Linked DNA regions of Homo sapiens: region 2 is linked to region 1. Evidence: fine-mapped expression QTL. A gene starts in region 1. The other region holds a variant in brackets. All regions are shown on one strand. Distances are between the middles of the regions.

Region 1 (2,912 bases):
CAAAATTGACAAATGGGATCTAATTAAACTAAAGAGCTTCTGCACAGCAAAAGAAACTACCATCAGAGTGAACAGGCAACCTACAACATGGGAGAAAATTTTCGCAACCTACTCATCTGACAAAGGGCTAATATCCAGAATCTACAATGAACTCAAACAAATTTACAAGAAAAAAACAAACAACCCCATCAAAAAGTGGGCGAAGGACATGAACAGACACTTCTCAAAAGAAGACATTTATGCAGCCAAAAAATACATGAAAAAATGCTCATCATCACTGGCCATCAGAGCAATGCAAATCAAAACCACTATGAGATATCATCTCACACCAGTTAGAATGGCAATCATTAAAAAGTCAGGAAACAACAGGTGCTGGAGAGGATGTGGAGAAATAGGAACACTTTTACACTGTTGGTGGGACTGTAAACTAGTTCAACCATTGTGGAAGTCAGTGTGGCGATTCCTCAGGGATCTAGAACTAGAAATACCATTTGACCCAGCCATCCCATTACTGGGTATATACCCAAAGGACTATAAATCATGCTGCTATAAAGCCACATGCACACGTATGTGTATTGCGGCATTATTCACAATAGCAAAGACTTGGAACCAACCCAAATGTCCATCAATGATAGACTGGATTAAGAAAATGTGGCACATATACACCATGGAATACTATGCAGCCATAAAAAAGGATGAGTTCATGTCCTTTGTAGGGACGTGGATGAAATTGGAAACCATCATTCTCAGTAAACTATCGCAAGAACAAAAAACCAAACACCGCATATTCTCACTCATAGGTGGGAATTGAACAATGAGATCACATGGACACAGGAAGGGGAATATCACACTCTGGGGACTGTGGTGGGGTGGGGGGAGTGGGGAGGGATAGCATTGGGAGATATACCTAATGCTAGATGACGAGTTAGTGGGTGCAGCGCACCAGCATGGCACATGTATACATATGTAACTAACCTGCACAATGTGCACATGTACCCTAAAACTTAAAGTATAATTAAAAAAAAAAATAGAAGTAAATTAAAAAAAAAAAAAAAAAAAAAAAAGATGTGAATGACCACGTTCCGGGCTGGGGCGGCCGGGCTGTCGGGCAGGCAGCGCGCGGCCACCAGGGGGCGCCAGAGCCTTGGCTCGCGCGCTCGGCCTCCTCCGCCCGCGGACGCCGCGCCCGAGCCAGCGAGCGAGCAGAGCACATCGCTGCGGGCTCACAAAGCGGCCAGACGCTCGGCGGCGGCGTGTGGCAGGAGCGCAGGGGCGCGAGCCGGCGATCAGCCTTCCCGGCGACCGTGCCGCGGGAGCTCGAGCAACTCGGACTAGGGGACCCGGGCCGGCCCCCAAGGTACGTGCCCAGAGGAACCCCGCGCCCCAACTTGGAGTAGTTGGGACCTCCCCGCGGCCGCCTAGGGGGCTGGCAGGGTCAGGGCCTGGGGTTACCTCCGCGCGCCTTTCTTACCCCCGAGACCTCAGGGCGCTCAAGGGAGACCTTTCCCTTAGCTGTCGCCGGGGACCCCCAGCTGCTGGCAGCCCCCACCCCGCTTGCCGGAGCTCGGGTGCTGCTGGAGCCCTGTTCTCCCCTCTCCTGCCCCAAAGCCGTGTGCACCGCACCGTCTGTGGGAGTGCGGCGTGCGGACCCGGGCTCCCCGCTTCTGGGGAGGGGTACCAAGCCCCTGATAGGAGGGCGGCATCTGTGGGGCACTCGGAGAATAGACGAGACGGGTCCCCTGTAGTTGGACGGCAGCCTCGGATTCGTGACGCAGCCTCCTCGTTCGTAGATGAGTCCCCCATTCGTGAGAGGGGTCCCTGGGTCTAGAGGCGCGACAGGCGCCCCAGGTGCGCGAGCGCTGCCCGTGCCCGCCGCGGGGTCCCCGCCTCCGGGCTGGGGCGCTGGGACGCCTGGGTGCCCGGGGCTCGCGGCCGCCCGCCCTCTTCGCTCATCGCCCTGCGCGCCCTGCCCCGCAGATGCCGGCGATCGCGGTGTTGGCGGCGGCCGCCGCGGCGTGGTGCTTCCTCCAAGTCGAGAGCCGGCACCTGGACGCGCTCGCCGGAGGCGCGGGCCCCAACCACGGCAATTTCCTAGACAATGACCAGTGGCTGAGCACCGTCTCCCAGTACGACCGGGACAAGTACTGGAACCGCTTTCGAGACGTGAGTACCGGCGCCACCCGGCCCTGGGGGGCGCGGAGCCTCTCGGAGGGGACCCCTGAAGCGGGGTTGGGGTGTGTGTGTGTGTGTGTGTGTGTGTGTGTGTGTGGTTGGGAGGGGGACAGGTGGGCATCTCCCGCGGGGGCTGGTCGGTCCCAGCTTCCTGGGTGCGGTCTTGCCTGAAAGGAACTTTAAAGAGAACTTCGAAGGCTCCATGCGCTTGCCTGTTACCTGTGGCCCAGGTGTGTGTATTCGTAGGGCTGCGGGAGGTGACTGCACTAAAATACAGCACAGATCACCAGTAGCTGTGGAGAAAGAGGTTCTCTGAGCTTCCGACTTCTCCTAACCGTGATGGTAGACTTTCCCTAGCTCCGGAGAAAACCTCCCCGGGGCAGCGGTGGCGTGGACCATCTCTGGGGTGTGTCAGGAGAATCCCTACTGGAGAGGTTGGGTCTGGGAGTGGTCCAAGCTATTTATGGGGGAGCTATTTATGGGAGTCAGGTGTTGCATGTGTGTGTGTGTGTGTGTTGAGGGAGGCGGTCATGGCAATGGGCCTGATAAAATACAGGGGAGGTGGGGTGGTTTGACCCTCGGAATCTTGAAACAGGAACAACTAGCCCGTGCAGTTGGTCCCCTGCCCTGAAAGGGACCCTGGGTGGCAGAGCATTGCTCCTCCGTGGGAGCCCTGGGAGTGGAGAAAGTTACTCCCGGACACGCAGAAACACACTTGCGGCCTGTTTCTGCCTCAAGGC
Region 2 (2,912 bases), 90 kb after region 1:
CAGGTGTGAATCTTGCTTGCCTAATCTTTGTGATATGCCATAGGCAAAGAGAGCTGTCCAGTGGCGTGGGGTGCAGTCCCTATTTAATACTTGTTGACTTTATTAAAATGCAGGGATATCTTCTGGGCCAATTATCCAAAGGGCACAGAACGGAACTTGTTTGGAATAATGAAACCAATAACAGAACCTGACAGCCGTGATCCATGCAGCCAATGAGATGATTATCAACAAACAGCCTTTCCCTGGCTTCCTGCAGCCAGCCTGCTCATAACATCTTAAAAAGGCTCTGTTGTCATGATAAACCTACATGGTCATCAGTTTCCAAGGGCTGGTTCCCCTTAACATCTTGATCAGTTCTTAAAATTAATTATCATCAGGAACAAGTCAAATGATACCTCAGGAAGATCCTTTTAAACACTAACAGGCAGTGGTGGAGTGTCTAGATAAGGGAAAATAGATCAGCTGAAAGATGTTGTAATAAACCAGCAGAGCACCTTGATTAAGTGCCTGTGAATGCCGAATATCAGGAGCATGATAATAAAGGCATAAAATGGGAAGGCTTGCAAAGATAATAAGGTCTGTGGTGTGATGATTTGGGAAGTGGTGAAGCTAAGGGAGAATGTGAAGTTTTCACAGCTTGAGGAGACAGCTGGGACCCAGGCCAGCTATGTGGTGGCAGTGGGAGGTGGCTCATGGTGGCCATTGCTAGACCATATCTGATGTGCCTGGGCATTCCTTCCCACCACCACAGTACTCAGCCCTGGCCTGAAGCATAGGAGGTAGCTGGTAAATGCTAAACCAAGCTAAACTGAATTTCCATTCAACCATAGGTTCCCTAAGGGCTAGATGTCTATTTTGCTCAGCACTTATTAGTGAGCCTAGCATATAATAGCTGTCAAATGATGGAAGGAATGGAGTTCTGGTATGTATATCCTTCTAACCTAACAGAAACATAGGAAAGTCAAAACCAAAAAACAAAATTAACTTTCTCAACCCAATCATTGTGGGCACAATAGCTAGTCTCCCATGGCAGCTGCCATGTGCCTCTTACCCATGTAATATTCATCATGTGCCAAGTATTGCTAATTTATCATGTGTTAAAATGCTGCTAAGGCTAATTTTATTTAATCCTTATGGGCAACCCTAGGAGATGGGTACTATCATTATGCCATTTTACAGAAAGTGACACACAGCTAGCACATGGCAGATTTGAGATATGAGCCCAGGCTGTCTGACTCTAGATCCTGTGCTCTGAGATGCTAGGCCAGACTTCCTCCTCCAGATTTCCTTTAGCCCAGCACTCTTCAGCCTTATCCCATGGCAGCCTCCCTCTCCACCTGCATGCTGCCTATGGATCTGCGATTCCCCAAACCCATGGCTTTGGTTCAGCCTGCCTGCCTAGGGTTATGAAGCTTATGTCTCCTATGAAGGGTATAACAAATAGGATTGGTACAGACACTTTCAATGCCTCTAACAGTATTGCCTCCTTCCAGGCTTTTCATAAAGAAAGGGAAAACCCCCTTTGAGGATGGGGAGGTGGGGACCATAT[CT/T]TGTGCTTCCTGGATGGAGTCAGGGGTGGGTGGTCATGACACTTTGGAGATTGTATGGGGGACTGGAGGTGGCCTGGATTCCTTCAGACTTGGATTTCTTTCCCAGGAGTCTGATAGGCTGTGCTCTAAAATGTGTGTTTGGGGAAGGGGTTTGGGAGGGAGATGGGACTGACCTTCGTGAAACATAAATTGAGCACTAGGCACAGTGCTGAGGGCTGTCTTCCCACTCACCCAGTGAGGAAAGTGGAGTTATCCTCCCATTTTTTTGGTTGAGGAAATTGAGGCTCCCAGAGGCTAAGAAGCATGGGCAAGGCCATGCAGCTAGTAAGTGGTGGAGCTGGGCTGCTCCTGGTCTGTCTCATGTTCTTTCCTTGACATCTTATTCTGATTTCCAGGGGGAATTGGCTGTTGGTGGAGGCTGGTGTCCTTTACCATGACATAACATTAGAAAATGAGCTGCAGGTAGCCTTAAGAGTTATGCAGTTAAAAAAAATAAAGTAAATGGGGTCCAGAGAGGGTAAACATGTTCCTTTCACGTTGGCCACAGCTAGGAGCTTAAGCTGTTCCCCTTTCCCCTTACTTTTTCTCAAGAATGGGTTTGGATTAGAGACAAAGATAAGCTTTTTATCCCTGAGAAGGAGGGCAAGAACTGATGTGTTTCAAGGGCACTTAGGAGGTATTGCATGCTAGAGGTGGCACTGGCAAGGCAGGAATGATCACAGCAAAGGGCTGTGGTGTTTCTTCTTCAGCCTCAGTCTGCTGGGCATCATGGTTGGGCCTATATGAGAGGAAACATGTCCCTGTCTGTCTCTCTCCCCTCCACATCCCCACTCCTGACTATCTGATGGTAAGACCATACCACTCACCATCCATGGTGGGGTTGAGGGACACCTAGCCTCTTCTGTCTTCTATAATATATGGGGAGTGTCAGGAACACAGCACTGAATACCACAGCCAAGGTCTTTGTTCTCATGGGCCTTGTGGGCTAGTAGAACTAACAGACAGACATTAAGCCAGAAAACAAATAAATCATCTATTTTCAGTTAATGATAAGTGTTGTGAAGGAAATAAGTCAAGATGCAGTGAAAAAAATCTTCCAGGGAGATGAAATATCATCTACAAAGAGTCCCAGGTAGTGCAGAGCTTGGTCTGTTGCAGGGGCTGCAAGGAGGCCCTTGTGCCTGGAGCCAAGTGAGCAGTGGGGGTGGGGGCGGGAGAGGCAGCCAGCAAGCATAGACCCTGCAGGGCCCTGTGGCTTGGAAGCAGGACTGGGATGTCAATCTAGGCATAGGGGAAAGCACCAATGGGTTTTAATCTAGGAAATGATGTGACCTGACATAGGTTTCAGATGTTCTCTGTCTC

Which allele goes with the higher level. Alleles are on the strand shown, and positions count from the first base shown. SD is a standard deviation of normalised expression in the study named.
For the expression in putamen of the gene that starts at base 1,210 in region 1, allele T in region 2 goes with a lower level than allele CT (large effect, 0.82 SD a copy in GTEx).

The links. PIP is the estimated chance that this variant, and not a neighbour inherited with it, causes the effect. A credible set is the group of variants that fine-mapping cannot tell apart.
Region 2: its variant is the best candidate, but not a certain one, in a credible set for the expression of SPOCK1 in putamen (GTEx, PIP 0.70).

What each region holds. Positions count from the first base shown.
Region 1 is chr5:137,497,624-137,500,535 of GRCh38, reverse strand. SPOCK1 (SPARC (osteonectin), cwcv and kazal like domains proteoglycan 1) reads left to right here and starts at 1,210. Exons shown (of 11, transcript NM_004598.4): 1 at 1,210-1,357; 2 at 1,978-2,163. The coding sequence starts at 1,978. RefSeq lists a silencer at 1,040-1,259.
Region 2 is chr5:137,407,795-137,410,706 of GRCh38, reverse strand. All of the region lies in intron 2 of SPOCK1 (SPARC (osteonectin), cwcv and kazal like domains proteoglycan 1), which reads left to right. Among named protein-coding and RNA genes, the nearest start is that of SPOCK1, 90 kb to the left of the region's middle. The variant CT/T (reference allele first, on the strand shown) is at 1,550.